Linked DNA regions of Homo sapiens: all the other regions are linked to region 1. The links come from fine-mapping of genetic effects on gene expression. A gene starts in region 1. Each other region holds a variant in brackets. All regions are shown on one strand. Distances are from middle to middle. Region 1 holds the start of NSMF (NMDA receptor synaptonuclear signaling and neuronal migration factor). Region 2 holds the start of EXD3 (exonuclease 3'-5' domain containing 3). Region 3 overlaps EXD3 (exonuclease 3'-5' domain containing 3). Region 4 holds the start of TUBB4B (tubulin beta 4B class IVb). Region 5 overlaps EXD3 (exonuclease 3'-5' domain containing 3). Region 6 overlaps PNPLA7 (patatin like domain 7, lysophospholipase). Region 7 overlaps ENTPD8 (ectonucleoside triphosphate diphosphohydrolase 8).

Region 1 (4,060 bases):
GGGCCGCAGGACAAGAAGGGCGGGTCCACTACCCTCCATGCTCCATCCAGGGCCCTGCGCTTGGGCCTTCAGCCAGTGGCCTCCTCACAGCAGAACTGGACATTCTCCTGGGAGACGTCTTCATGGCTGCCGCAGGCCGAGAGGGCCCTGGGCAAGGCAGCCCCTATCCACAGTTGCCAGGTCTGGGGTGCTGGAGCCCTCAGGGTGCTTGGCTGACAAGGGGAGGAGTGTCTGCCCGCTCCTTGTCCTTGTGGAAGACCCACGAAGTGATGTGCTGGGGCAAAGCTGGAGCCAGACAGAACCAGGGGTGGTGTGCAGGGCTGCCCTGGGACCAGGTGGCTGCGTGTAGGGCCCCGGGCCACCTTGGAGGCGGGGGTGGGCATCTGTGGCCGGTTCTGCCTCTGAGTGTGGCTATGCTGGGTACGGTCCCTTCCTTGGGAGGGGACTGACGCAGCCCTACCCTCGGTGCCAGACGAATCTGACTACCAGACGGAGTACGAGGAGGAGCTGCTGGACGTCCCCAGGGATGCATACGCAGACTTCCAGAGCACCTCAGCCCAGCAGGGCTCAGACTTGGTGAGGAGCTGGGCATGGTCCCACCTGGTGCCCACAGCTGAGCCTTGGTGCCTGGCCCTGTGCCGGCCACTCCCTCCCTGTGGTCCCACCGGGTTACCAGCGCTGCAGAGCCCCTGCCCTGCCTGGTCCTCACCTGGAACATGCGGTCTGCTTGCAGGAGGACGAGTCCTCACTGCGGCATCGACACCCCAGTCTGGCTTTCCCAAAACTGTCTGAGGGCTCCTCTGACCAGGACGGGTAGAGGCCTCTGCTAAAGAGCCCGGATGCAGCGTCTTCCGTGGGACTGTCCCCAAGGCTGAGGCTCCTGCCAAGTCCTAGGGGCCTCTGTACCTGCCCTGCTGGAAGCCCTGACTTCCCCGGGGCCCCAGGCTGTGTTAGGGTTCTCTGGGCCTCTTCTTTGTACCAGCAGCCCTGCATACAGGGCCCTGTGAGCCCCCCTGCAGTCCTGTGAGGCCCCTGAAGCTCTGTGAGGCCCCTGAAGCTCTGTGAACCCCCTGCAGCCCTGTGAGGCCCCCCGAAGCCCTGTGAGGCCCCCCGAAGCCCTGTGAACCACCTGCTGCCCTGTGAGGCCCCCAAAGCCCTGTGAACTGCCTGCTGTCCTGTGAACTGCCTGCTGCCCTGTGAGGTGTGGGAGCCCTGATGCTGCCGTGTGATGTTTCAATAAAGGTGGATCTCACTGTTGGACGTGTCTCCCGGGCCGAGGTCCCTGTGGCAAAGAAACACTACTGGTTCTCCCTGATGCGGGTGGTCCCTGAGGCTGGGCAGTCCCCAGTCCTCCTCAAAGGACCCCACTGCTGGGGCCTGAGAGCCCTAGGGCGGCAAATGCAGGCCAGGCAGGTAGGGCGTCCAGAGTCTGCATAGAGCTGTGGCCCCCCAGGACCAGGACGGGCCCCTCTGTCTCTCTCTGGCCTCGTGCAAACTGGGTGCCCCCTAAACTGGCTTCCCCTTCGGTTTCCAGTTCCCAAACTGCACAGGGAGCCCTTTTGTGTAAGGGGAGGGAGAACCGGCCTCCCTGTGATCCTGCAGGTCTGAGCAGCAGATCGTGAGGGCCGAGGGCCCAGGACTTTGCGACCAGGGGGCCGCTGGCCTCAGTTTCCCCGCTCTGGAGGCCTGGACGAGAGGGCGCGGAGCCAGGCCGCCCGGCCCCGCCCCCAACTCAACCCGGGCCCGGACGTCACGGTGGGCGGGGCCACATGTCCTCTCCGAGCTCTCCGGGGCCCTGACGTCACGGTAGGTGGGGCCGACCGCCCCTCTGGGCCCGCCCGGGCCCTGACGTCACGATGGGCGGGGCCGGCCCTCGGTTCGGGCAGCGCTCTCCCGGGAGCGGCGGCACGCGCGGAGCGCCGGGTGCGGCCATGCGGGGACCGGGCCCGACCCCGAGCCCGACCCCGAGCCCAAGCCCGAGCCGGAGCCCGAGCGAGACCCCGAGCCCGAGCCCGAGCGCGACCCCCGGTGCGGCGCGGCTACCCCGGCGGAGGCGGCGGGCGCGGGGCGCGCTCTGAGGCCCGGGGGATGCGCCGCCGCCTCGACCATGGGCGCCGCCGCCTCCAGGAGGAGGGCGCTGAGGAGCGAGGCCATGTCCTCGGTGGCGGCCAAAGTGCGGTGAGTGCGGCGGGGCCGCCTTCCCGCACCCCGCCCTGGACCTCCGACCCCGCCCGAGTCCGCCCCTGCCCCGCGGTGCTCCCCGGGCTCCCGGGCCCCGGCCTCTGCCACTGAGGCGCCCTCCCCGCGCCCCGCGCCTCCCTCTTCCTGGTCCCCTGCCCTGCTCTTCCCTCCCCTCCCCTCGCGAGCGCGTGGTGGGCGAGCGCACCCCCCAGGTCGGGAGTGGCCTCGGTTCCCCCGGGGAACAGCAGCCGACCGGCCTCGCGACCCCTCTCCACGGTCCGACGGGCAGGGGCCGGGCCTGCAGGCCTGGCCAGGGCGCACCAGGACCAAGGGTGTGTGGGCTCCCGGAGGGGGACGACCCCGACCCTCCTTCCAGACGCCGAGGGCCTGGCTGGGGACCGGACCCCCGGCTCTTGCGCGGCCCGGTGTTTGGGAGGGTCGTGCCGTGGCCTCTGACCGTGCCCTCTGTCCACCCTCAGAGCAGCCCGAGCGTTTGGAGAGTACCTGTCCCAGAGTCACCCTGAGAACCGCAACGGCGCAGGTAGGGGCACGCGAGGCCGTGCCAGGGCCGCCCAGACCCCCCAGCCCAAGGGATGCTGATCCCTGCCTCCGGGGGTGGAGCGTGAGGGGCATTGGTTGCGCGTGGGCCCGGCGCCCTGCCGGCCTGGCTTCCTTACATCCCCTGCCCTCCCTGCCCGAGCCCCAGGAGCAGTTCCCAGCCGCTCGTCACCATGGCACCCACCCCGCCTGGGCCGTTGGCATGGCAACAGGCCTCCTGGCTCCCCCAGGGCTGGCACCACTGCCTCTGGGGGCCAGCTGGTGGGGGGAGGGGGAAGTTGGCACCAGGCAAACGGTGCGATCGCAGGCTGGGGGATGGCCTGCGTGTTCCTACCCGGCAGGACCGCACACAGGTAGCACAGCGTCACCCAGCCCCCACGCACATGCTAGAGCTTCAGGCCCAGATAGGAGTGAGGGGCTCAGAAACACGCCAGTGACTAGGGTTTGGGCAGCCCTAGTCCCCCACAGAGGCCAGGTGCCCACTGGGTGTTCTCTGCCTTCGGCCTGCTATGAAACCGGCAGCGGGGGGCCCACACGCGGCAGGCAGGCTCACTCAGTGTCTCTCCTAGATCACCTGCTGGCTGATGCCTACTCTGGCCACGACGGGTCCCCCGAGATGCAGCCGGCCCCCCAGAACAAGCGCCGCCTGTCCCTCGTCTCCAACGGCTGCTACGAGGGCAGCCTCTCAGAGGAGCCCAGCATTAGGAAGCCCGCAGGCGAGGGCCCTCAGCCTCGAGTGTACACCATCTCTGGGGAGCCTGCCCTGCTGCCCAGCCCTGAGGCGGAGGCCATTGAGCTGGCGGTGGTGAAGGGGCGGCGGCAGCGGCACCCTCACCATCACAGCCAGCCCCTGCGCGCCAGCCCTGGTGGCAGCCGGGAGGACGTCAGCAGGCCCTGCCAGAGCTGGGCGGGCAGCCGCCAGGGCTCCAAGGAGTGCCCCGGATGTGCCCAGCTGGCTCCTGGCCCCACCCCTCGGGCCTTTGGGCTGGACCAGCCACCTCTGCCTGAGACCTCCGGTCGCCGCAAGAAGCTGGAGAGGATGTACAGCGTTGACCGTGTGTCTGGTGAGGGGTTTGTGTCAGGGCATAGACAGGTTTGGGGGTGCATGCCGCTGCCAGGGTCTGACAGCAGCAGCCACTGTGAGGCTTGGAACAGAGAACAGGTGCTCAGGTCACAGCATGCCAGCGGACTCAAGATTAAAACCGGCAGGCTTCTGCTGCGGCCTCCACACCCTATGAGCTGTGAGCTCCCTCAGCTCCTCAGCAAAATCTGCCAGGCCTCACAGTCCGCTTTCGCCCTGCTAGCACCAGGTCAATCAAGG
Region 2 (4,060 bases), 37 kb after region 1:
CAGCGCGGCCTCGCTTAGCTCAGGTGCGGCCCCCCTGCTCGGCTCCCACCTGCCGGGGCGTTCGCTGGGTCGGGGGCGGCAGGGCGACCCCGTGACGGTCGGGGAGGGGCGCTGGGCCCTCCCCAGGGGCTCGAGGCGGAGGCGTCGCCCGCACCGGCCTCCCCACGCCCCGCTCACCCGCAGCGCGGCCTCGGGGTCCCCGGCCAGCAGGTGCACGCAGCCCGCGTTGAAGCACAGCCTGGCGGGCGGCGCCGGGACGCCCGAGAAGAGGTGCAAGGCGCGGGCCCAGTCCCCACGATCCACAGCCTGCGCGCCCAGGTGCCAGGCGCGCACCAGGTCCCCCAGAGAGGCCATGGCGGCCGGTGGCGGCGCTCGAGGAGGGGCCAGGATCCCGCGGAGGGGCCGGGGCCGGGGCCAGGCGGCGGCGCGGGGCTGCGGGGTCTCCGAGGCGGGCAGAGGTGCGGGCGCCAAGCGCCAGGTGCAACCCCGCTGCCCCGCGGCGCCCCCTGGCGGCAGGCGCCCGCCCCTCCCCGGTAAGGCCACGCCCCCGCCAGAAACGGCTACGCCCACTCCAGACCCTCAGGCCTCGCCCACCTCCCATTCGGCCCCCGCCCCGGCCGGACTTCCGCCGGGAGCTTTGTGCGCCCGGCTTCCTCGCCCCGCCCGCGCTGGCCTTGGTGCGCCGGATAAAGCCCTCCGGGCCAGCGGCTGCGGTCGGGCCAAGGTTCCGCGCCGGGCGTGGACGGTGTGGGGCGGTCCCGGCCCCGCAGGTGAGCGACCCCGGGCCGCGCGGGCCAGGTGGGCGGTCTGGGCGCCGGGGGCAGAGCGGGGCCGGGCCGGGTGCGCGTCCTGAGGTGAGGGCCGTAGCTGGGAGTGAGCCGGGGGCGGGCCGCCGGCTCTCCCGGGGTGGGGAAACTGAGGCCCCGATGGGGCGGGGAAGGTGCGTTCTCCCGCAGGGCCCCGCTCCGGAGGCCGCCGAGCAGCCGGACGCCGCGGGGAGCTGAGCCGACCCCGGCGACCCCGCCGCCCTGTCCCGCAGGGCCTGCCCTCCTCCGCGCCTTCCGAGCACGGACATCACAGGACCCGGAGGCCCTTCGCTCCCTCGCCGAGGAGGAGGCGCTCCCGGTGGGACGCGCGCGCGCCCGCCCTGCCCTCCCCGGGAGAAGGGACGGGCGCCTCCCTGCAGGGGCCCTGGCTTCCTGTCCACCGGCGCTGAGTCCTGTATTAGTTGTCAACCTAAAATAATTAAAAGGGTCAGAATGTGGTGCCCGGTGGGTTTATTCAGGCACAGAGGTCGAGGGCGGCCTGGGTCACCAGGTGCAACGGAGAACAAAACAGAGGCTCAGGTTTTTAAAGAAAACAGAGCCCATCGGAGAGCAGGTGGTTTCGAACGTTGCCCAGGAGCTCACTGGCTTGTAGAAATGGCATTGGTTCGCGATTGACCACGGCTTGGTGTCATCAGTGGATAGTTACTTGGCTCGAGGGGTAGTGAGGGGCTGCGGTTTCATTTGAAATGCTTTCTGGCACTTAACATCAAGCTTTCTGGGCCCACAGTTTAAAAGGGCTTTACATTCCTCAGATAAATGATTTTTTTCTTTCTCATTTGCCCCCCTTTTGATCAAAATCTTTCTTCTTGAAAGCATTGATTATCAAAATCTGAGGGTCAGAGTGTCCCCTCTTGCTGGGAAGGCTCATTCCCACATAGTCCTGTCCCATGCCAAGCAGGGAAGGAGGAGACATTTCAGGGAGTTTTTTTTTTTTTTTTTTTTTTAAGAACACCACAAACTGAATTGGAATGGCATTACAGGGTGGCAAACATGAGGTCTCAGTGAAGTCATTAATTTATACAACTGCTGTCACCTGTTGAATCATCTCTAGTTTTTAGAAACACCATTAATTTTAATTT[T/C]CTCAGAAGTAACACATAGGACTATAACCAATTTGTATGCCAGGATGAAAAAAACAAACCTGTTCCATTAGGGAGACAACTAAAAACATGAAGAAACTAAAATCCATGTTCTTCTTTCTTTTTATTTATTTGTTTACTTAGAAATGGGGTCTTGCTCTGTCACCCATGCTGGAGTGCAGAGGCACGATTCCCACTCATCGCAGCCTTGAACTCTTGGGCTTAAATGATCCTCTTGTCTTAGCCTCCTGAGTACCTGGGAATACAGGTGTTTGCCACCAGGACCGGCTAATTTTAAATTTTTTTGGTAGAGACTAGGTCTTGACACCTTGCCCAGGCTAGTCTCGAACTCCTGAGCCCAAGTGATCCTCTCATCTGGGCCTCCCAAAGTGCTGGGGTTATAGGTGTGAACCTCTGCCCAGCCAGGTTCTTCTTTGAGACTTGTAGCCAGAAGATTGTTCAGGATTTAGTCCAGATTGTAGGAAAATAAAAAATACAATGATCAGGGCTAGAATCCAGTAACAGGTATGCTGTAGTTTTTCTCTGAAACATAATTTTTCTCTACTTCCCCATTTCTACCAAAGATAAATCTTGGTAAGACCAATTTACTTGTAAAATAAATTTTAGGATTATATTTGGCCTGATTATTTGCCTAAAGTACAACAGTGGTGATTGGCCATATAGGCTCCTTTCTAAACTGGCTGGAACTTTGCCATAAGGAATTTCAGACTTTTTTTCCCCACATCAGACAGGTAATGTGCTGGCGTCATAACAGCGTTTGAAGGAGACAGACCCTACACATGAGGCAATCATCATGCTTATGAACTACAAGAGGGTCAGAATAGACCTTTAAAAGCCACTTGAGGGCTGGGCATGGTGGCTCATGCCTGTAATCCCAGCACTTTGGGAGGCCAAGGTGGGAGGATTCATTGAGCCCAGGAGTTTGAGACCAACCTGGGCAACATAGCGAGGTCCCTGTCTCCACAAAAAATTTAAAAATTACCTGGGCATAGTGGTGCTCACCTGTAGTCCCAGCTACTCAGGAGGCTGAAATGGGAGGATCGCTTGAGTCCAGGAGATTGAGGCTGCAGTGAGCTATGATCGCACCACTGCACTCCAGCCTGGGTGACAGAGCGAGACCCTGTCTCTAAACAAAACAAACACTTCCCATGTCTAGGAAGCCAAGCCAGTGGCTCCCCATCACAGTGTATGTATAATACCTGTATGAATTTGGGGGGGGGGGTGAATGTCTGTCCTCCAGGTCCCAAACTATCTTGAAGTTCCTGGATCTGTCGGAAAGTGACATTCTTTCCTTACCTCAAGGCCAAGAACCTTTTAAGGGAACTATGTAAACAGGGCACCAGTCCAGTCATCCCAAGGGGCTTTTTATTGGCTCTATAAAGCGAACCTCGATTCCTCAAAGCAGTCTCGTCATATCCAAAAATACGTCATCCCAGTCCAAGCCTTGGTAGAATAACCAGGGTCTCCAATTGTGTCCTGTTACAAGGACAACAGATTCTTACTGAACTCATGCAAAGAACTACATTGCCATAAAATAAGAATACTCATGAATCGCTTCCAGATTTTTGAGAAATCAGGTAGAGAAAAAGACAAATATTTCAGTTTTGCTCACAAAAGTATATGTCACTCAATTGCTATAGCTATAAATAGCTCAAAAAGAAAAAGGTTTTCTGACTCTGGAAAACAAAATATAAAAAGAGTCAGCAAGGTTTCGATAACAACAAAAAATCATAAAAAGCATTTCAGGCCTCTATCAGTTCAGTTCTATGTAATTTGCTGGGGTTTTTTTTGTTTTTTTTTTAGGCGGAGTCTCCCTCTGTCGCCCAGGCTGGAGTGCAGTGGTACAATCTCGGCTCACTGCCAGCTCCGCCTCCCGGGTTCACGCCATTCACCAGCCTCAGCCTCCCGAGTAGCTGGGACTACAGGCACCTGCCACCATGCCCGGCTAATTTTTTTGTATTTTTAGTAGAGATGGGGTTTCACCGTATTAGCCAGGATGGTCTCGATCTCCTGACCTCGTGATCCGCCCGCCTTGGCCTCCCAAAGTGCTGGGATTACAGGCATGAGCCACCGCGCCCGGCCGCTTTTTTCTGTATGATGTTGGGTTAACAATCCTCATGAATGCATCAGCTTTTA
Region 3 (4,060 bases), 66 kb after region 1:
GGAACACCCTTGGGGGCTTAGCGCCGCCACTGGGGGCTCAGGGAACCCACAGCCTCTTGGGTCTCGGGCGGTTCCAGGGTGGCCTCCAGGGTCCCTAGTTTTTTAAACTGAGGCATTTTTCATCCCTTCGAGTTAAGAAGAACATCTGCCCTCCCAGCAGCTTTTTCAGGTTAAAAAAGAGAAATGAGAGGCACCTTCCCTGTGGGCAAAGCCGGGGAGGCCGCATCCCCGCTCGCTCGGCTGCCCTGCCAGATTCAGTGCTGAGGATAAACAGCCCGAGGGGAGGTGCAGCCTCTCTCCCTCCTGTTCCTACAGATCGAGACCCTGCAAGCTGAAGACTGGGCCAGGGTTAGGGAAGCGGAGGCTGGAAGGCCGGGATTAGGGAAGCGGAGGCTGGGAGGCCGGGGTTAGGGAAGCGGAGGCTGGGAGGCCGGGGTTAGGGAAGCGGAGGCTGGGAGGCCGGGGTTAGGGAAGCGGAGGCTGGGAGGCCGGGCTTAGGGAAGCGGAGGCTGGGAGGCCGGGGTTAGGGAAGCGGAGGCTGGGAGGCCGGGGTTAGGGAAGCGGAGGCTGGGAGGCCGGGGTTAGGGAAGCGGAGGCTGGGAGGCCGGGGTTAGGGAAGCGGAGGCTGGGAGGCCGGGGTTAGGGAAGCGGAGGCTGGGAGGCCGGGGTTAGGGAAGCGGAGGCTGGGAGGCCGGGGTTAGGGAAGCGGAGGCTGGGAGGCCGGGGTTAGGGAAGCGGAGGCTGGGAGGCTGGGGTTAGGGAAGCAGAGGCTGGGAGGCCAGGGTTAGGGAAATGGAGGCTGGGAGGCTGGGGTTAGGGAAGCGGCGGCTGGGAAGGAGTGGAGCTGCCTAGTGCCAGAGGGGTCAGCCCGAGCCTCAGCTGCTCTCTGTGCCGGGGACGGGCTGGGGCGGGAAGCCTCCTGGCAGGGGCTCGGCCCCAGTGGGAGCTGTCCGGGGCCATGGCTTTGTGGGCAGAGGGTGAGAAGGGGGTGCCGGGGCCCCTTCACATCCTTCACCCTGCAGTCCTTGTAAACAGCAGTGAGAGCTGTAAGGCCCTGGCCCAGCCGCCTCGCCCTGGGCTGCAGGCCCTCAGTTTGTTGTGGGTTTACTGCCTTTTCACTCACCGCCCCCTGGCCTTTGCCCAGTTCCACCCTACACATGCCCTGCCTGGCAGCCCCTCCATGGGGCAGGGCCATGGCCCTCCCCTCTGTGAAAGCCCTGCTCCCACATGGCAGCAGCTGAGGCTCTCTGCCTCAGTTTCCCTATCCCACGCAGTTGCCTCCTCGGGCCTTGGACCCCTCCAGGGGCTTCCTCTCTGCCTTCCTCTTCTGTGTCCCAGTGGGTGCTGAGGGCTGTGGGGGCACCTCCGGGCATGTCGCCTTCCCTGATGTAGCCAGGTCAGCGTGTGCTCGGGGAGGGGCCACCTCTGAGCTGGGCGGGGCTTGGTGTGGATGTGGCCCCCTCAGCAGGCACAACCCTGGCTGTCCTGTGGGGCCCTGACCACACACCTGCCCCTCTGGGGATGGGCCCAGACCCCCTCACCCTTCCGTTCATCCACCGCCTCCTCTGAGGCCATCTGCGGGCCCCGGGCCTGCACCTGTGTGGGATGAGGCCCTGTTACCTCCCCTGGAGACCGCCGTCAGGGCCGGGGAGCGCATGGGACCCTGGGTTCGCCTCAGCACAGAGCTGACTCTCCCTGCACAGGCACCCACAGGCTTCTACAGCCTCTTCTCCACCTAAGCAGAGTGGGATGTTTTCAAAGTGCAACACCCCAGCTAGCAGGGCCCCTGGAACAGCCTCGGCGCCCCCTGGAACACTAATGGCCCTCCCTGGAACAGACACGGCACCCCCACCGAGAACAGCCTCGGTGCCCCCTGGAACAGCCTCAGCACCCCCTGGAACACTAATGGCCCTCCCTGGAACAGACACGGCACCCCCACCGAGAACAGCCTCGGTGCCCCCTGGAACAGCCTCAGCACCCCCTGGAACACTAATGGCCCTCCCTGGAACAGATACGGCCCCCCGCCAGAACAGACATGGTGCCCGCTGGAACACTAATGGTCCTCCCTGGAACAGCCTCGGTGCCCCCTGGAACACTAATGGCCCTCCCTGGAACAGACACGGCGCCCCCCCACAGAACAGCCTCGATGCCCCCTGGAACAGCCTCGGTGCCCCCTGGAACAGCCTCGGTGCCCCCTGGAACAGCCTGGTGCTCCTGGAACAGACACAGCCCCCCCAGAACAGACACAGCACCCCCTGGAACAGCCTGGCGCTTCCTGGAATGGCCACATCCCCCCATCCTTTCTGTGCTGCTTTAGGCATCTGCCCTTACATGGTTCGTGTCCAGCTCTGTCAACAAGGCCAGCTCCACAAGAGGCCCCAGCTCAGCCCTCCCCAGTGGGCTCCCCTACTCAGGCTCTGGGTC[A/G]GCTTCTTCCCAGGAGGTGTCCTGGCCCCTGTGCTGGCCCCGCCTCGCTGCCTGGACACCTGTCCGTGCCACCCTGGTCACTGAGCAGGACATCCGCGTCTGTGGCCCCTGGGACCCTGCCCCCGACAGCCAGGCCTGGGTTTGTCCTTTTAGGTAGAGTGCCTGGTCCAGGTCATTGGAGGAGAGTCCACATGGCCACCTCTGGCGTGTTCTAGAGAGGCCCTCCCGCGCTGGGTCAGGAGGCATCATCGGGACAGGAGAAGGGGGCTGAGCTCCTGTTCCTCTCTCCCTCCCCCGAGGCCAAGAAACATTCCCATCCGAATGTCCACTGCGCTCACAGATTCCTTTCCTCCTAAAACTTCAGCCTTGGCCAGGCTCACGGCCAGGATTATGGTGGCTCACGCCTGTAATCCCAGTACTGTGGGAGGCCGAGGCAGGAGGATCACGAGGTCAGAAGATCGAGACCATCCTGGCCAACATGGTGAAACCCCGTCTCTACTAAAAATACAAAAATTAGCTGGACATGGTGGCGGGCGCCTGTATTCCCAGCTACTGGGGAGGCTGAGGCAGGAGAATGGCTTGGAGGCAGTAGAACTGCTTGAACCCTGGAGGCGGAGGTTACAGTTATCCGAGGTTGTGTCATTGCACTCCAGCCTGGGGAACAGAGCGAGACTCCATCTCAAAAAAAATAAAAAACTTCAGCTTTTGCATGAGCAGGCGCAGTTGAGGTCAGAAAGTCCACGTTGCCCACGTCCACCTGGTTCGGGGTTTCCAGGCGGCGCTTGAGCCTTCCTTGGGAAATTCAGAGTCCCACAGACGGCATTAAACTGCAGCTGGGCACCAGGGCCGGCGGTCGGCGAGGCGGGGCGGGGCGGGGCAGGGAGGCCGGCCCTCTGGCAGAGGCAGCAGCTCCAGGAATCACCAGGGCCGGCGGGCGGTGGGGTGGGGCGGGGAGGCCGGCCCTCTGGCAGATGCAGCAGCTCCAGGAAGCCTGCCGGCCTGGGTTCCCTTTCCCTCCACATCCGCCGCTCCTCCCCATCTTGCTGGGCTCCGGACAATGGGAGCCTCCAAGGCTGAGGCTGCCCTGGCTTCCCGGAGGAGACCCATGCCCTACAGCTTGGGCCTGCTGAGGTGCCTGGGGCTGGGGACGTGGCCAGCCTCACATCCAGCGTCCACGCTCCAGACGGGTTCCTCGGCACCCGCCCAGTGTGGACACGGCGGTGAACAGGGCAGGGCCCGCAGGAGAGGCCACTTTTCCTACGAAGCTCCGTGATGAGCGCATGCCGCTCTCGTAATGCACCGTGAACGTGCGGGTTCCTGGAGACGCCTCCCTCTCAGGCCTCACTGGTGGGCTGTGGCTGTGGGTGGACGTGGGGACACCTGAGGAAGGGCGGCGGCCGAGGCCCTGCTGGGAGGGGGGTAAGGAGAAGCTGCCGAGGCTGCCCTGCCCCTCTCCATGCCGAGCAGGCCACCCCCGCCCCACCATGGGTCCCCCAGAGGTGTGGACACCAGATCTGCCTCCAGGACCCTGGGGACGGGCTTGTCCCTGTCCCACGACGAGGTCACAGGCACTTTGTGGCAGCCTCTGAGCCACCCTCACTGTGTCCTCACCCCCTGCCCTCAGCGTCCACTGGCC
Region 4 (4,060 bases), 220 kb after region 1:
TACCAGTGCAGGAAGGCCTTGCGCCGGAACATGGCCGTGAACTGCTCGGAGATGCGCTTGAACAGCTCCTGGATGGCCGTGCTGTTGCCAATGAAGGTGGCGGACATTTTTAGCCCCCGAGGTGGGATGTCACAGACAGCCGTTTTCACATTGTTGGGGATCCACTCAACAAAATAGCTGCTGTTTTTGTTTTGGACATTAAGCATTTGCTCATCCACCTCCTTCATGGACATGCGGCCCCTGAACACGGCGGCAACCGTCAGGTAGCGGCCATGGCGGGGGTCGCAGGCAGCCATCATGTTCTTGGCATCAAACATCTGCTGGGTGAGCTCGGGCACGGTCAGCGCCCGGTACTGCTGGCTGCCCCGGCTGGTCAGTGGGGCAAAGCCGGGCATGAAGAAGTGCAGCCGGGGAAACGGGACCATGTTCACAGCCAGCTTCCGCAGGTCAGCATTGAGCTGGCCTGGGAAGCGCAGGCAGGTGGTGACCCCACTCATGGTAGCAGACACCAGGTGGTTCAGGTCACCATAGGTGGGCGTGGTCAGCTTTAGGGTTCTGAAGCAAATGTCGTAGAGAGCTTCGTTATCAATGCAGTAGGTCTCGTCTGTGTTTTCTACGAGCTGGTGGACTGAGAGGGTGGCGTTGTAGGGCTCCACCACTGTGTCTGACACTTTGGGCGAAGGCACCACACTAAACGTGTTCATGATCCTGTCTGGGTACTCCTCCCGGATCTTGCTGATGAGGAGGGTACCCATCCCAGACCCAGTCCCCCCACCCAGGGAGTGGGTCAGCTGGAAACCCTGCAGGCAGTCACAGCTCTCAGCCTCCTTTCTCACAACATCCAGCACCGAGTCCACCAGCTCCGCGCCTTCTGTGTAGTGCCCCTTGGCCCAGTTGTTCCCAGCACCACTCTGACCTGTGAGAGAACACAGCTAATCATTTGTCAGCCAGGTAGACAGCACTACTGGTCACCGCCATGCGAAAAAAGCCGAGTGACATGGTGTGAGCTGACCACAGAATTCACCCTGGAGGTAGAGCAAACGGACCCTTCAAAGCCAAAAGACGGCAGCCTGCCCTGCTACGAATTAAGTCAGGGGCCAAACCTGACAGCTTAACAAACCCCTCCCCGGGGGGGCCACTGCCAATTCCCAAGGACAGAGGAACAGCCACTGCCCCAGCTCAGCTCCCTGCAGGGAGATTACGTGTGTGGCGGCTCCTCGCCTCGGCAGACAGCTGGACCTTGCTCCCAAAGCCGATTTAGTAGAGGGGATTGAGTGGCTCAGAGAAGAGGAGGGCGTCCAGGGGCCCCGGCTGCGCAGTTCCCACGGCGGTGCCCTTGGAGCAGCCCCTTGACCTTTGAGCCGCCGCCCAGTCCCCAGCCACGGCTCACCGAAAACGAAGTTGTCCGGCCGGAAGATCTGCCCGAAGGGCCCCGAGCGCACGGAGTCCATGGTGCCGGGCTCCAGATCCACGAGCACGGCGCGGGGCACGTACTTGCCGCCTGCGGGGACGGGAGGGCGTCAGCCAAGGCAGGGGCCGCGGGGTCCCCGGAGGGCGGTCGGGGAAGGGGCCGGGGCCTCACCGGTGGCCTCATTGTAGTACACGTTGATGCGTTCCAGCTGCAGGTCGCTGTCCCCGTGGTAGGTGCCCGTGGGGTCGATGCCGTGCTCATCGCTGATCACCTCCCAAAACTACAAGGGACGCGGGCGGGCCCGGGCGGGCCGGGGCTGAGTCACCGCGGCCGGTGCGCAGGGAGGCAGCCCCGCCCCGGACGGGCGCGGCAGCCCGGCCCTCCCCGCCCCTCCCCCGCCCCGCGCGCCCTGGCCGCCGGGTTCCTGGGGGCTTCGGTCGCCCGGCTCGGCCAATTCCCCGCGGAGGGGGCCCGGCGGCCGCAATGCGGGGGCGCCGCCCGGCCGCTGCTGCCGCCATCTTCCCCGGCCGCCCGCCCACACCGCCCGGCAGGCCCGCCTGGCCCCAGCGCCCCGGCAACTTACCTTGGCGCCGATTTGGTTGCCGCACTGCCCGGCCTGCAAGTGCACGATTTCCCTCATGATGGCGGCGGCGGCGGCGGGGAAGCAG[G/T]AGGAAGTAGACAAACAGCAGCAGAAGAGCGGGCGCGCAGAGTGCTACAACCGACGCTCCGCCAACGCTTATATACCCTCCCTGCCCGCCTCCGCTAGTCTCGGAATGGGCTGCCAGAACGAGGCTGGCAAGCTCCCTCGTTTGATTGGCCTTGCCCCCGTCAATCAAGCTGCCTAAGGTCCGCCTTTTTAAGCCAGTTTGGTCTTTATTGGTCAGCCGCAGCCTCCTATCTCCCTATCACAATCCCCCTCCTGGCGCCGCAGTGCTCCGTCCATTGGGTGTTTCAAATGATTGATTTGCCGTCTCATTGGCTGGCTGCCGGGAGCACGCCGCCAGGCTGGCGCTATTGGCTGCGCTGCTTCAGCGTCCTGGTAACCGCCGCAGTGCCGCGGCCGGCGCGCGGACGGGGTGGGGCGCAGGCGCGAGTGCGGGCTTCCGGTCGGGCGGCGGGCAGCTGCGCTGGGGGCGCCGAGGGAGGGCGGGCCCGACGGGCCTCGGGCAAGCGCAGTCTTGGCTCTGAGCCCGGGGCCTTTCGGGAGCCGGGAAGGGCAGGCTCGGTGGCGGCCCCACGTCCAGAGTTGCGCCCTCTCTGGCCTTGCGCCGGGACACGGCATCTGCGCGCTGGGCGGGTTCTGGAGCGGGGTCCGCACGGAGCGAGCCCGGGGCCTCCAGGCCGAGGAGGCTGCGATGCCTTAAAGGCAGGAAGATACACGGGCTCGGGGGCTGCGGCGGTGGAGGGGAGCTCTCCACAGAGCCGCAGAGGCCACGGAGTTTCCTGCTCCCGGGTGCCGCACGCCCACTGCCCTCGCGGTCGCGTGAGGGGAGCACGTGGGGGACGCCGCGCCCCGAGGGCCGGGGCGGAGGGCAGGGGAGGGGAGCGGAGGGGCGAGGCCTCCCCCGCAGCTGCGCGCCCTGCCCTGTTGTGGAGACGGCGCTGGCTCTGCGCCGGTCGCCTTGGTGCCTCGGCCCCGTGAGTGCGCGAGCTCCGTGGAGACCAGGACAGCGCCCAGACCTCCCTCGGCGGGTGGGCCCCGACCTCCGGGCTCCAGGGCCGGTATTCCAACCACAGGTCAGCGCGCTGGGGCTGAAACATACTTCTGTTAATGCTTTTCCTAATTTATGACTTGATTTTTACTTGGGTGGGAAAAGAAACTTAAAATGAATTACATGTGGTTGCGCCTGTTTAAAAACAAACGGGCTGTATTTTTGCAGCATTTTTATTTTACTTAATTTATTATTCTGAGACAGAGTCTCGCTCTGTCTCCCGGGCTGGAGTGCAGTGGCGCGATCTTGGCTCCCCGCCCCCCCCCAGGTTCAAGCGATTCTTCTGCCTCAGCCTCCCCAGTAGGTGGGACTGCAGGCACCCACCACCACGCCGCTAATTTTTGTATTTTTGGTAGAAATGGGATTTCACCATGTTGGCCAAGCTGGTCTGAAACTCCTGACCTCAAGTGATCCGCCCGCCTCGGCCTCCCCAAGTGCTCGGATTTACGGGAATGAGCCGCCGTGCCTTCTACATTTTTGTAGCTTTTTTCTTTTTTTTTTGAGATGGAGTTTTGCTCTTGTCGCCTAGGCTGGAGTGCAGTGGCGCAATCTCAGCTCGCTGCAACCTCTGCCTCCCCGGTTCAAGCAATTCGCCTGCCTCACCTTCCCAAGTAGCTGGAACTACAGGTGTGCACCACCACGCCTGGCTATTTTTTTTTTTTTTTTTTTTTGAGACAGAGTCTGGCTCCGTCGCTCAGGCTGGAGTGCAGTGGCATGATCTCGGCTCACTGCAACCTCCATCTCCCGGGTTCAAGCGATTCTCCTGCCTCAGCCTCCCGAGTAGCTGGGATTACAGGCGCCCGCCACCACGCCCGGCTAATTTCTGTATTTTTAATAGAGATGGGGTTTCACCATCTTGGCCAGGCTGGTCTGGAACTGACCTTGTGATTCATTCGCCTCGGCCTCCCAAAGTGCTGGGATTACAGGCATGAGCCAC
Region 5 (4,060 bases), 76 kb after region 1:
GGAACGCAGAGCACATGATGCGGCTCGGCACATGATCGTGAACACACCACAGCACGCCCCGCCCAGCCCACCCTGGCCCCATCGCCAGCCATGCCCAGCATGCAGCACCCAGAATGCGGGGCCAGTCACACTGCCTGCCATGGCCACGTGGTGGGGTACGTCCTCCCCACCTGGGCATCGTCCCGGGGCTGATGCACTTGCTCCGTCCTCCTACAGTGGACATTTGAGTGTTCTCAGCCTCTGTATGCAGCACACTGTGCACGATGGTGGGACGGTTCTGAGCGCAGACGGGAACACTGGCCTGTGCCACCCAGGCCCAGGTGGCTGCAGAGACGCCATGGTGGAGCCTGGGCGCCCCACGGTGTTTTATGGTTTTTTGGTTTTTGTCTGAGACGGAGTCTCGCTCTGTTGCCCAGGCTGGAGTGCAGTGGCCCGATCTCGGCTCACTGCGACCTCCGCCTCCCGGGTTCATGCTGTTCTCCTGCCTCAGCCTCCCGAGTAGCTGGGACTACAGGCACCCGCCACCATGCCCAGCTAGCTTTTGTAGTTTTAGTAGAGATAGTGTCTCACCACGTTGGCCAGGCTGGTCTCGAACTCCTGACCTCAAATGATCCACCTGCCTCGGCCTCCCAAAGTGCTGAGATGACAGCCGGCTGGGTTTTGTTTTGCATGAGCTGCTTTTGTTACATTTCTCCCAGGGAATCTGACATTGCTGATGCTGTTGTAAGTGATTTTTGAAATGGCCATTTCTGTTTATTGCTGATTTTCTCATTTTGGCTTGTGCTGAGCATTGATGCCGAACCCATTGGTTAATTCTAACGGCGTAGTTTTGATCCTTCGTGGCTTTCTGTGTAATCAATCACATTGTCGGCCGGTCCTGATGTTTCTGTTTTCCTTCTGCATTGGATGCCACCTGCTTGGGACGGCTCCAGGCCGGGCTGTGGCATCCTTACGTGCTGCCCTGAGCACCACGTCTCACGCTCGCCCATGGCTTTTACCCAGTTCAGGGCGCTCCCTGCCCGTCCCAGGTGAGTTATTTCTTAAATTGTGAGCTGAACTGAATTTTAGAACACTTGCTCTGTGTCTACCGAAAGGGCCACGTGGTTCTCTCCTCCGTTCCGGTCCTGGGCTGAATCATAACCTTGGACTCTCCTGTTAAGTCAGCCTGGCTCTCTGGGGTGACCCCCGTCACACACGCTTCTCTGGCGTGTGTGGCAGAATCCAGCTGCTGAGGTCTGATCTGATCTCATGTGAGTCCTCAGCCTCCCTCGCAGCAACACGGGGCCTTCCCTGTTCCCGTCCTGCCCTGCAGGGGGGCCCAGCAGCTTCCACAGCCCCCCAGGTCCAGGGGGAGTTCACTGCGGAATCCACCCAGGCTCCTGTCCTCAGGCCTCCCCTGTGGAGTCCCTGCTGGCACCTGCCCCTCCCTGGCCTCCGACCCTGACCCTACCACATGACCAGGCCTGAGTGGGTCTCCACTCCCCTGCACCACCGGCCTCCAAGCCAAGCCACGCAGCCCCTGGGTTCTGTCTGGAAACCTCCCTCGGGTCTCGCTCTGGTGGCCCTGTCCGTGTGGGGCAGCGTCTTTGGTTGGCACTTTTGCTGCAGTGAGGTCGGGGGCCTCCCAGGCGGGGCTGGAGGGAGGGGGCGGCGCGGGAGGGCCGGGGACCGAAACCTAAAGAGGGCAGGGGCTTGGGGTCCTCGTGGTGCCAGGACTGCGGTGCAGGGTTTGGGTGAGAAGATGCTGATGAGGTTGCCGAGGGCGCCAGGCGGAGCAGGTAGAGGCTCAGGCCCACGAGGGCTGCTCTGCACCTGCAGCTGAAAGATGAGGCCCAGCTCCCAGGGCTGAGCGTGGTTGAAGTGCTGCTGGGCGGACTCAGCTGGATGGGCGGCCACGGGCCACAGGGAAGGAACAGGGTGGGTGCTGCCGCAGCTGGCAGGTGTGTTGTGTGTGTGCCAGACAGAGGTGGGGGAGGGTTCCCGGCCCCCCGGGTCCAGAGGAGCCCCAGGCATTGCGGGTCAGTGGGAGGGACTTCCCGGCGGGCTGTGCGATAGCCCCTGCACCTGCCTCTCCCTCCCACGGCTGTTATCTTATCTCCACAGGCC[G/A]GGACCCCCTCCTGCTCCTGCAGGCCCTGCAGACCCTGTGGTCCACGCGGGAGCGGAAGCAGGTGAGTGGACGTGGCAGCCACCACGTGCCAAGTCACAGCCAGCAGAACTGACTGTTGGGCAGAGACTGGCCTAACAGGAGGCCTCCCTGGTCAGGAAGCTGCACAGCCCCCCACGGCCACAGGGTCCTGCACAGCTGCTGCCCCAGACCGCCTCCAGGGTGGCCTGTGTGGGGCAGGGGGCGGTCCTCCTCAAGTCCCCAGGGTGGTAAAGGCACTGCCTGGCCCCAGCAGCCCCTCTGAGGTCACCTCTGGGAGGCGCAGGGGCCACTCACCTGCAGGGACACAGCTGTCGCCAGCACTGCCAGGCCTGAGGCCCCGTCCTGCCACCGCCAGAGCACCCAGGCCCGGGTGGCCACTGGGGCAGGTGTCCAGGACAGGGAGGCCTTAGGAAGGGGTGGGACTTGAGCAGGGCAGGAGGCTGGGCGGGAGAGGCCAGGGGAGAGGCTACAGAGGGAGGGCCGGCCCCCTGTGGGGGCAGACGCGGATTCCGGCTCCTTAGTGGCAATGGCCTGTGCACAGGAAGCTGCCAAGTCCTGAGTGCCGCGTCCTCTGGCCCGAGGTCGCTCCTGCAGGTCCGGGGGACGCCCTCCAACCCCAGCCCAGCTCCTCTGAGTGCCACATCCACTGGCCTGAGGTCACCCCTGCAGGCCCGGGGGATGCCCTCTGACCCCAGCCCTGGCGCTGCCTGCTCCTGTGTCTGCCTCTCTCCTGCACCCACCTCTGCCAGCTTTCGTTTGTCCATCAGCTCGGTGGCTTCTTGGGCCTCCAGCTTGTGAATCTCTGTCCTTGCTTTTGAGATTTCCCTCTGCCGTTCCATTTCCAGGCTCTCTTGTCGGACCTTCGTCTGTGACGCTCAGTCTTCCTCGCTCTTTGGCACCTGCGTGTGTGGTGTGAGCCTCCCCGGGTCCCGCCCTCTGCCCCCCGCCCCCCACGTGTCTGAGTTGTGGGATTCCACTGTCCTTTCCTCCCTATGTCCTGACATTCGTCCTGGCGTCTCCTTGGAGCAGCGCTTGTTTATACACAGACAGGGCTGAGATCTGCTCCGGGCTCCGCTGACAGCCATGAGGCCGTCAGGCATTTCATCTTCATGGGGTGGGCCTGTGTCTGTGCCCTCACCTCCTCCGCGCGCCCTCACCTCCTCCGCATGCTCCCACCTCCTCCCCGCGCCCTCACCTCCTCCCCGCGCCCTCACCTCCACCGCCGCCCTGACCTCCACCGCCGCCCTGACCTCCACCGCGCGCCCTCACCTCCTCCGCGCGCCCTCACCTCCTCCCCGCGCCCTCACCTCCTCCCCGCGTCCTCACCTCCTCCCCGCGTCCTCACCTCCTCTGCGTGCTCCCACCTCCTCCCTGCGCCCTCACCTCCTCCTCGTGCTCTCACCTCCTCCTCGCGCCTCCATCACATTCCCGGATTCCAGCAAGCTGGCGAATGCCACATGCCCAGTGGCCCTGGGTGGGCCAGGAGCCTTGAAGATGGGGTCCTTGGGGGTCCTGGGTGCTGAGGAGAAGCCCAACCCTAGAGCCGGCTGCACATGGAGGTCTTGGGGACCCCCATATGGTGGCACAGACGCCGGGTGCCCCCAGAGGAGGGAGATGAAGACCAGGATTTTGGAGAACTCCTTGGGGCGGTCTGCAGTATAAAGGGGGCAATGGGACTGTTGGCCGTCTGGGAGGGCTTAGGTGTTCCTCTAACGTGAGAGAGGAGCCAGCACACCGGGCGGGTGAGAGCAGCCTGGGAGACGGGCAGGAGGAGGAGGCAGGGCTGGGGCGGGGTGAGGGCCTGGAGTAGGCGCACTCCCAGAGTGGGGCTCCCCTGGTTCATTGGGCCCTTCCCAGCCCCACTGCCCAGCAGCCTGTGGTGGGGTGTTCCTGTCTTTTTTTTTTTTTTTTTTT
Region 6 (4,060 bases), 40 kb before region 1:
TGAAATCATGAAACCGTAGACGCTGCCGAAATGTTTCCAGTGAAGTCCATGCCCAGAGCTGATCAGGTCGGCGGATGGTCTCCCGGCTGAGCCTGGTGGCATCGTCCGCTCTGGGCCCAGAGCTGCCCCCGTCCTGCCCGCGGCCACTCGCGGCGCCTCCTGAGCCCTCTCGTGTGTCAGGACGCCAGCATCCTGTTCGTGGTCTCGGGGCTGCTGCACGTGTACCAGCGGAAGATCGGCAGCCAGGAGGACACCTGCTTGTTCCTCACGCGCCCCGGGGAGATGGTGGGCCAGCTGGCCGTGCTCACCGGGGAGCCTCTCATCTTCACCGTCAAGGCCAACAGGGACTGCAGCTTCCTGTCCATCTCCAAGGCCCACTTCTATGAGTGAGTCCCACGGGCCAGGACCTCAGGGCGGGCCCCAGCCCCCCCTGCCCTGAGACCCCTCCCCGCGTGGCCGGCCTCTTCCTGGTGCTCTCACCCTCTTCCCTGCTTCTCGGGCTCCCCTCTTTGTCCCCGGCACCTGTGTGGGCCCAGGTCTGTGCCCCCTGCTCCAGCGCTCAGTCAGCCGACCCCACCTGCCCGCAGCGATCAGCTTCGCACGGCCGTCTCTGTGGTCTGGTCCCAGCTGTGTCCATTTATCACTGGTCTGTGGTCTGGTCTCAGCCGTGTCCATTTATCACTGGTCAGTTCTGGGGCTCCCCAGCTTGGCTCAGCAAGGCCCACGTTGGGGCAGGGCCGGGCTTCAGGGGCCGTGAGCCGTCCCACCTCTGCAGCCTGGGCTGACGTGTCGGGAGCCAGTGATGCGGAGGTGGAAGGGCAAGGCAGTGGGTGAGGACGCGTCTCTGGCTCGGGGGAGGAGCCCCACTGACGTGTGTCCCTTCTTGGGGCAGAATGTGCCCGTGTCGCCTTCCAGGCTCCGGGCTGGAAGACATCTGTCCACTTGACCCCAGCCCGTAAGTCTCAGATTTGGCCCCTCCAGGCCCAGAGCTGCCCTCGGCCCGCCTGTGGCTGCCTGGCAGAGCCGCCACGTCTTTGCATCCACGGCACTGGGCATTCTGCTCTGTCAGGTCCAGAATCTCCTGGAGCCTGGGGTTCAGTTTAACCCCAGCTCTCGCCTCTGGTGGCTTGAGCCGTTCTGTGTGTGTTTTCTGGAAGTCCTCCGCACCCTCATAGGCCAGATGTCTGCTGTGGTCTCAGAGCTCTTCTGCCTGAGTGGTTGGGCAGCAGGAGAGGTCAGAAGCCTGAAGGTCAGTGGAAGCACAGCAGCTGAAGAAAACAGGTCGGCTGGGTGCAGCGGCTCACGCCTGTAATCCAGCAAATGGCACCGCGCCGTTGCTGCTTCAGCCTGGGGACCCCGAGCCGGGCAAGGGGCAGGGGTGGGGGCAGCGGGGCCCTGGCCCAGTTGGGAAGGGCTTTCTGCATGGCCTCTGTCTTCCAGGCCTGGCCTGAGTGGCTCCAGCCAGGTCCCGATGCCGGGTGCCCTGACACCGCAGCGTGCTGATGGGGAGACTGAGGCTCCAAGTCCCGGTCCCTCCACCAGCAGGGGACCCTGGGTGGAGCTGGACCCATCTCCCTCCTGAGCATCCCCAGCTGCTCCAC[A/G]TCAGTGCCAGGGAGATCAGGACGGATGGCGAAGAGCAGGGACAGGAACCACCCAGGGCAGAGCTCAGGGCCCTCAGCCTTAATGCAGCTCAGTCCCCCCGTGCTGTGTGTCTATCTGTGTGTCTGCGTGTGTCGTGTGTCTGCGTGTGTCTCTGTGTGTCTCCATGTGTCTGCATGTGTCCGTGTGTCTGTCTCTGTGTCTACATGTGTCCATGTGTGTCTCCTTGTGTCTGTGTGTGTCTGTGTGTCTGTGTGTGTCTCGGTGTGCCTGTGTGTCTGCCTGTGTCCGTGTGTCTCCGTGTGTCCGTGTGTCTGCGAGTGTCTCTGTCTCCGTGTGTCTGTGTGTGTCTGTGTGTCTGCCTGTGTGTCCGTGCATGGTGTGCCTTGCAGCCGTCACCCCAGCCAGCATCCCAGGGCTCCTCCTCCACCCCCAGGGCTCTAAGTGCCACGCTCACGCCCTTCACGCCCTCACCCAGCCACTGTCTTGCCATCTCCCCAGCTTCCCCCACCTCCTGTGCAAAGCAGATCCTGATTCCACGTTTGCTCTTCCTCCTGCTTTTGCCTTCTGAGGAAATGGCAGCTCCACCTGCCTGTGGCTCAGGCTAGGCCTGGAGTCGCCCGGCGTCACTCTCACACCTGGTGCAGGTTGCCCCACGTCCCACCTCGCCACTGCCCAGAGCCCCTGGGCACGTCCCTGCTGCAGCCCTCACCCTCGACAGTCTGTCCACACACGACCACCGGGGAGAGAACAGTGTTCCCCGGGTCAGAGGCCCCAGCCACCCTCCACCCACCCAGGAGAGACCCTGTGCTATCCAGGCCCCATGGGTCTCTCAGCCTCTGCCTTTGCCTGCTGGTGCCCTTCACGGCACTCACTGCCAGCCACACCCACGGCCCGAGTGTGCATTATGCAGCTCCTGACGGCATGTGCAGTCCCCTGCCAGGACCGCAGCCTGACACAGGGCCCGTGTCCAAGGGGCACTCGCGGGCCTGCCAGGAGGGGGCTCTCTGGGCTCCCCAACAGCTGCTGGCCACTGGGCACGTGGTGGGCAGTGCTGTGCCGTGGGGCAGGCAGCTGACTGGTGCGTGCCCCGTCCCAGCCCCTGCCAGTGGTCTCTCTACTTTCCGGGTGGGGTGGGGGTTGTGGGTCCCATCCATTCCCGAGCACTGCGGCCCTGGGCGAAGGGTAGGGTTGGAGGGATGGGGCAGGATTGACTCTGGGCTGCCCGGCAGAATCATGCGGAAGCAGCCGACCGTCGTCCTGGGTGTGGCGCACACTGTGGTGAAGAGGATGTCGTCCTTCGTGCGGCAAATCGACTTTGCCCTGGACTGGGTGGAGGTGGAGGCCGGGCGAGCAATATACAGGTGAGGCCGTGGGTGCCACACACTCCGCATCCATGCTGCCCTGGCATGCAGGAGCTGGGGATGGGCAAAGCACGGTTACCGTGGAAACCACACACGGAAGTTACTGTGGAAACCACACATGGAAGGCTGGATTTCCCCAGCCCCACCCCAGCTTAGCTCGGAAACACACTTCGTGGCCTCCTGGATTTCATGACACCCACACACGCTTGGACATAGTCCATGTTCTATGAGCATCTCTCCGTGTCATTATATTCAAGTCCACACCGTCCCTTTAAAAGGGCCCCATTAGCTGGGCGTGGTGGCTCACGCGTGTCATCCCAGCACTTTGGGAGGCCAAGGTGGGTGGATCACAAGGTCAGGAGTTTGAGACCAGCCTTGCCAACATGGGTGAAACCCTGTCTCTGTTAAAAATACAAAAATTAGCTGGGCGTGGTGGTGTGCGCCTATAATCCCAGCTACCTGGGAGGCTGAGGCAGGAGAATCACATGAACCTGGGAGGTGGAGGTTGCAGTGAGCCGAGGTCGTGCCACTGCACTTCAGCCTGGGCGACAGAGCGAGACTCCGTCTCAAAAAATAATAATAATAATTAAAACCAAGACAATTTTAGAATATTCATTTAAAACAACCCAGGCCTGTTAACATAAATATTTTAAAATAAAAAATATGTTTTCCAAAACAAAAATAAGATAGTGAGAAGCCTGCATTTTCTTTTTCTCCATCCTGAGTCTGTCTGGCATTGGGAAGCTGGGTGTGGAGGCTGAGGCTGGGGGCCCAGGGCTGCAGGGCCTCTGTGTCTTCCGCAGGCAGGGGGACAAGTCCGACTGCACGTACATCATGCTCAGCGGCCGGCTGCGCTCTGTGATCCGGAAGGATGATGGGAAGAAGCGCCTGGCCGGGGAGTACGGCCGAGGAGACCTCGTCGGCGTGGTAGGTGCTGGGCCCTGCTCCTGCCTCCCCCACCTCTGCATCCCTCCCAGAGCATCCTGGGTTCTGGCCTGGGTGTGGCCTGGCCAGTTACTTGGGAGCAAAAGCCCCAGGAGTGGATGGTAGTAGTGATGCCCCGCAGCCGCTTTGCTGTGAGCCCCGGGCTCTGCCTC
Region 7 (4,060 bases), 21 kb after region 1:
CCCAACCTCTTTGCCTACCTGGAGGCTCAGGCCTGGGGGTCTCAGGTGGCTACATCTTCTGGGTGTGGAGTCCCTGTGTTCCTGGCCCCTGTCACCTGTTTGTCCCTATGAGGTGGCCTATGGCCTGGGTGCTGGTTGGGGACACAGGCTGGGCCCTGTCTGGGCTGGACCGGCCTCCTGTCCTCTCTGAGCCTCTGTCATCTACCCTCCTTAAAATGGGCTTATATCCCCCGGACATACAGAATTGCGTGAGGACCCCACAGCGTGTCCCACTTTCCACGTGCCCAGGAGCCCCAGGTCAGGACCAGGGCAGCACCCGCGCCTGCCACTCAGTGTGGGTGCAACGTTTCCCGGGGGAACACGATAGGACACGGTCACATGGGGTTCAGGTGCCGGGACCTTGGCAGGCAGCCTCTGGCTTTGACCACTCCTTTGGCAGTGGTACCCGTGTGAAGTGGGGCTGTATGGGGCACAGGGTCGGCCTGGGGTAGTTTGAGAGCTGAGACCCTTGCTGGGCGTTTGGGCAGAGGAGGAGGTGGACACCTCGGCCACAGGGCTAGAGAAGCCCAGGCCCCTCAGATGGCATCCCTGGGTCCACCTCCCGACCAGGCGCCATCTGGCACCAGCTAAGAAGGTGCAGAGTCAGATTAGGGAAGCCTTGGGCTGGATTTCCAGAGAAACCGATGTTGTTAAGAAGCCTCACACTCGGCTTCCTAGGATGGCTGGCCTCACCCTGGGTTCACCCACAGCCCCTCGGCAACAGTCCCCTCAGGGCTCCAGAGAGAAACCCCCACCCTAGGAGTGCCTGGGGTGGGGGCCGCAGAGAGGAGGCAGAGCCCTGGGCCCCCAGTGCAGGCTGGAGCTGTGGCTGCTCCTGGGGAGGGTGGCACGGGAGAGGCAGGACCGAGGGGTGGGGACACAGGGTGGCCCCATCACATGGTGGGGGCAGCTCCGCGAGTCCCATCCGAGGGGGTCCGAGGGGGCTACTTGGATCCTGCTGGGGCTGTGTCCCCAGACGAGGCCTCTGCTGCCCCCCGCCCCCCTCCCACAGGGCCCTCTGATGCCCATGGCACCCCTGGCAGGCGTGGCTCCTGGGGAGTGGTCCTTGGCCACGGGAGGCGTCTGAGCCCCGGGGATGCCTCTATGGCCACGGGAGACCGTCTGAGCCCCGGGGATGCCTCTATGGCCACGGGAGGCCGTCTGAGCCCCGGGGATGCCTCTATGGCCACGGGAGGCCGTCTGAGCCCCGGAGATGCCTCTATGGCCACGGGAGGCCGCCTGAGCCCCGGAGATGCCTCTAAGGCCACGGGAGACCGTCTGAGCCCCGGGGATGCCTCTATGGCCACGGGAGGCGTCTGAGCCCCGGAGATGCCTCTAAGGCAAGTGGCTGTCCAGGGGTGCGTCTCCAGGGAGACGGGGAGCGAAGCCTCTGCCTCTGGAGGGCGGGATGGGGACACCAAGTGCAGCCTGGGTGCCCACGGCCGTCCCCCCACAGGAACCAGTACCACCTGCACCATGGGGCTGTCCCGGAAGGAGCAGGTCTTCTTGGCCCTGCTGGGGGCCTCGGGGGTCTCAGGCCTCACGGCACTCATTCTCCTCCTGGTGGAGGCCACCAGCGTGCTCCTGCCCACAGACATCAAGGTGCGTCCCCGCCGGCAGGGGAGGCCGGGCCGGGTCCACAGGTGTTGCCTCCCACTCATCCCACTGTCTCCCCAGTTTGGGATCGTGTTTGATGCGGGCTCCTCCCACACGTCCCTCTTCCTGTATCAGTGGC[T/C]GGCGAACAAGGAGAATGGCACGGGTGTGGTCAGCCAGGCCCTGGCCTGCCAGGTGGAAGGTTAGTGGGCTGTTCTGCAGCCCGGTGCTGGGACCTGCCTGTTGCTGCCTGGCTGGGATTCCCAGCTGCACGGAAAGGGTTTGGAGAGGTTCAGTGACTTGGCTGAGCTCACACGCCGGGCATGGGTGCTGGGCCGGAGCCTGCGTTCACGCGGTGGCACTCTGGGGACCTCCCTGCCTGATCCTGGTGAGCAGTCAGATTCTCATGGCCTGGCCTGGGTCTGCCCAGCATCTGCTGCCTCCAGCCCTGACCCTCTCTGGCCCCTGGTGCTCCCCACCCTGGCACCACGTGGTGCTGGCAGCCGAGGCTGGTAGTTACAGGGGTGCCTGCACTCCAGGATCCTGAGAGGGGAAAACAGGAGGCCCCGAATTTGTTTCCTGGGGGCTCTGGTAACAAATTACCACAAATTGGGGGCTTAAAACAGTAGCAGCTTATTTCTCAGCATTCTAGAAGTCTGAAAACAAGGTGTGGACAGGGCCGCACCCCCTCCAGAGGCTCTGGGTTAGGGTCCTTCCTGCTTCCTTCAGCCTGAGCACTCCACGCAGCCCTTGGCTGGTGGCTGCACCAGGGGGCATGAGGTGGTCATGTCTTTGGGGGCTACCTTTCAGCCCAGCCAGCCTGCGGGGTCTGGAGCTCTGTCCCCGGCTGCTGTTCCAGGGCCTGGAATCTCCTCCTACACTTCTAATGCTGCACAGGCTGGTGAGAGCCTGCAGGGCTGCTTGGAGGAGGCGCTGGTGCTGATCCCAGAGGCCCAGCATCGGAAAACACCCACGTTCCTGGGGGCCACGGCTGGCATGAGGTTGCTCAGGTGAGGCAGGCATGGCCTTGGCACCCACGGGGAGTGGCTGCAGAAGCCATGGTCTCAGCCAGCGTGGCAGGCAGGGTGGGGCCGGGCCCAGGCTTCCAGCCAGCTCCAGCCCCTGGTCCTCTGTGCCCAGCCGGAAGAACAGCTCTCAGGCCAGGGACATCTTTGCAGCAGTCACCCAGGTCCTGGGCCGGTCTCCCGTGGACTTTTGGGGTGCCGAGCTCCTGGCCGGGCAGGCCGAAGGTGCCTTTGGTTGGATCACTGTCAACTACGGCTTGGGGACGCTGGTCAAGGTGCCACAGGCTGCCTGAGGGCGGGGGCTGGTCTGCGAGGGGCTGGTGTCTGGGGCTGGCTGACCGGGACGGGGTCCGGGTGGCTGCTCCCAGCTGAGTGGCCCCTTCTGTGCCCAGTACTCCTTCACTGGAGAATGGATCCAGCCTCCGGAGGAGATGCTGGTGGGTGCCCTGGACATGGGAGGGGCCTCCACCCAGATCACGTTCGTGCCTGGGGGCCCCATCTTGGACAAGAGCACCCAGGCCGATTTTCGCCTCTACGGCTCCGACTACAGCGTCTACACTCACAGCTACCTGTGCTTTGGACGGGACCAGATGCTGAGCAGGCTCCTCGTGGGGCTGGTACAGGTCAGCTGGCCCTGGGGAGGGTGCATGGGGCTGTGGGAACAGGGCTATGGGCACAGGGCTGGCGTGGGTCATCCGGCCCCGGGGAGGGGGCACAGGGTATGGGCGCGGGGCTGGCGTGGGTCATCCGGCACCGGGGAGGGCGCACAGGGTATGGGCGCGGGGCTGGCGTGGGTCATCCGGCCCCGGGGAGGGGCACAGGGCCGCAGGTGTGCGGCTGGTGCTCAGGCCTCCCTGCCCTCTGCAGAGCCGCCCGGCTGCCCTGCTCCGTCACCCGTGCTACCTCAGCGGCTACCAGACCACACTGGCCCTGGGCCCGCTGTATGAGTCACCCTGTGTCCACGCCACGCCCCCGCTGAGCCTCCCCCAGAACCTCACAGTTGAAGGGACAGGCAACCCTGGAGCCTGCGTCTCAGCCATCCGGGAACTTTTCAACTTCTCCAGCTGCCAGGGCCAGGAGGACTGCGCCTTTGACGGGGTCTACCAGCCCCCGCTGCGGGGCCAGTTCTATGTGAGCACCTACACTGCCCCCACCAGGGGTCCGGGCTTCCTTGTGAGGCCTCAGGTGCCTGTCTGACTCCAGCAGGCCCAGGAGGGGCCCAGGCTGGCTCTTAGGGGCTCTGGGAGCCCGGGTGGGGTGGATCTGGCCCAGCGTGGCCACAGCGAAGGCACAGCCACCTCCCCTCTCACTCAGGCCTTCTCCAACTTCTACTACACCTTCCACTTCCTGAACCTCACCTCCAGGCAGCCCCTGAGCACGGTCAACGCCACCATCTGGGAGTT

The links. PIP is the estimated chance that this variant, and not a neighbour inherited with it, causes the effect.
Region 2: its variant is fine-mapped to the expression of NSMF in whole blood (TOPMed, PIP above 0.99).
Region 3: its variant is fine-mapped to the expression of NSMF in whole blood (TOPMed, PIP 0.99).
Region 4: its variant is fine-mapped to the expression of NSMF in follicular helper T cells (Schmiedel 2018, PIP 0.95).
Region 5: its variant is fine-mapped to the expression of NSMF in whole blood (TOPMed, PIP above 0.99).
Region 6: its variant is fine-mapped to the expression of NSMF in whole blood (TOPMed, PIP above 0.99).
Region 7: its variant is fine-mapped to the expression of NSMF in whole blood (INTERVAL, PIP above 0.99).

What each region holds. Positions count from the first base shown.
Region 1 is chr9:137,457,150-137,461,209 of GRCh38, reverse strand. It overlaps NSMF (NMDA receptor synaptonuclear signaling and neuronal migration factor), which reads left to right and starts at 1,876. Exons shown (of 16, transcript NM_001130969.3): 1 at 1,876-2,178; 2 at 2,661-2,722; 3 at 3,309-3,803. The coding sequence starts at 2,108. It overlaps PNPLA7 (patatin like domain 7, lysophospholipase), which reads left to right. Exons shown (of 35, transcript NM_001098537.3): 34 at 473-576; 35 at 734-1,258. The coding sequence ends at 817. RefSeq lists enhancers at 1-171, 2,995-3,692 and silencers at 1,646-1,995, 2,086-2,355.
Region 2 is chr9:137,419,824-137,423,883 of GRCh38, reverse strand. It overlaps EXD3 (exonuclease 3'-5' domain containing 3), which reads left to right and starts at 722. Exons shown (of 22, transcript NM_017820.5): 1 at 722-770. NOXA1 (NADPH oxidase activator 1) reads right to left here and starts at 491. Exons shown (of 14, transcript NM_001256067.2): 1 at 178-491. The coding sequence starts at 354. It also overlaps the pseudogene LOC124902354. RefSeq lists silencers at 261-820, 841-980, 991-1,130. The variant T/C (reference allele first, on the strand shown) is at 1,907.
Region 3 is chr9:137,390,879-137,394,938 of GRCh38, reverse strand. The region is part of intron 2 of EXD3 (exonuclease 3'-5' domain containing 3); the gene reads left to right. Among named protein-coding and RNA genes, the nearest start is that of EXD3, 30 kb to the left of the region's middle. The variant A/G (reference allele first, on the strand shown) is at 2,425.
Region 4 is chr9:137,239,352-137,243,411 of GRCh38, reverse strand. It overlaps TUBB4B (tubulin beta 4B class IVb), which reads right to left and starts at 2,125. Exons shown (of 4, transcript NM_006088.6): 1 at 1,995-2,125; 2 at 1,583-1,691; 3 at 1,391-1,501; 4 at 1-916. The coding sequence starts at 2,051. RefSeq lists silencers at 1,721-1,950, 2,281-3,100. The variant G/T (reference allele first, on the strand shown) is at 2,080.
Region 5 is chr9:137,381,421-137,385,480 of GRCh38, reverse strand. It overlaps EXD3 (exonuclease 3'-5' domain containing 3), which reads left to right. Exons shown (of 22, transcript NM_017820.5): 3 at 2,104-2,168. Among named protein-coding and RNA genes, the nearest start is that of EXD3, 40 kb to the left of the region's middle. The variant G/A (reference allele first, on the strand shown) is at 2,107.
Region 6 is chr9:137,497,017-137,501,076 of GRCh38, reverse strand. It overlaps PNPLA7 (patatin like domain 7, lysophospholipase), which reads left to right. Exons shown (of 35, transcript NM_001098537.3): 16 at 181-386; 17 at 2,832-2,963; 18 at 3,767-3,890. Among named protein-coding and RNA genes, the nearest start is that of NSMF, 40 kb to the right of the region's middle. The variant A/G (reference allele first, on the strand shown) is at 1,602.
Region 7 is chr9:137,435,741-137,439,800 of GRCh38, reverse strand. ENTPD8 (ectonucleoside triphosphate diphosphohydrolase 8) reads left to right here. Exons shown (of 10, transcript NM_001033113.2): 2 at 1,496-1,641; 3 at 1,717-1,834; 4 at 2,492-2,642; 5 at 2,773-2,932; 6 at 3,050-3,280; 7 at 3,525-3,788; 8 at 3,972-4,060. The coding sequence starts at 1,516. Among named protein-coding and RNA genes, the nearest start is that of ENTPD8, 3.6 kb to the left of the region's middle. RefSeq lists silencers at 3,491-3,540, 3,502-3,756. The variant T/C (reference allele first, on the strand shown) is at 1,775.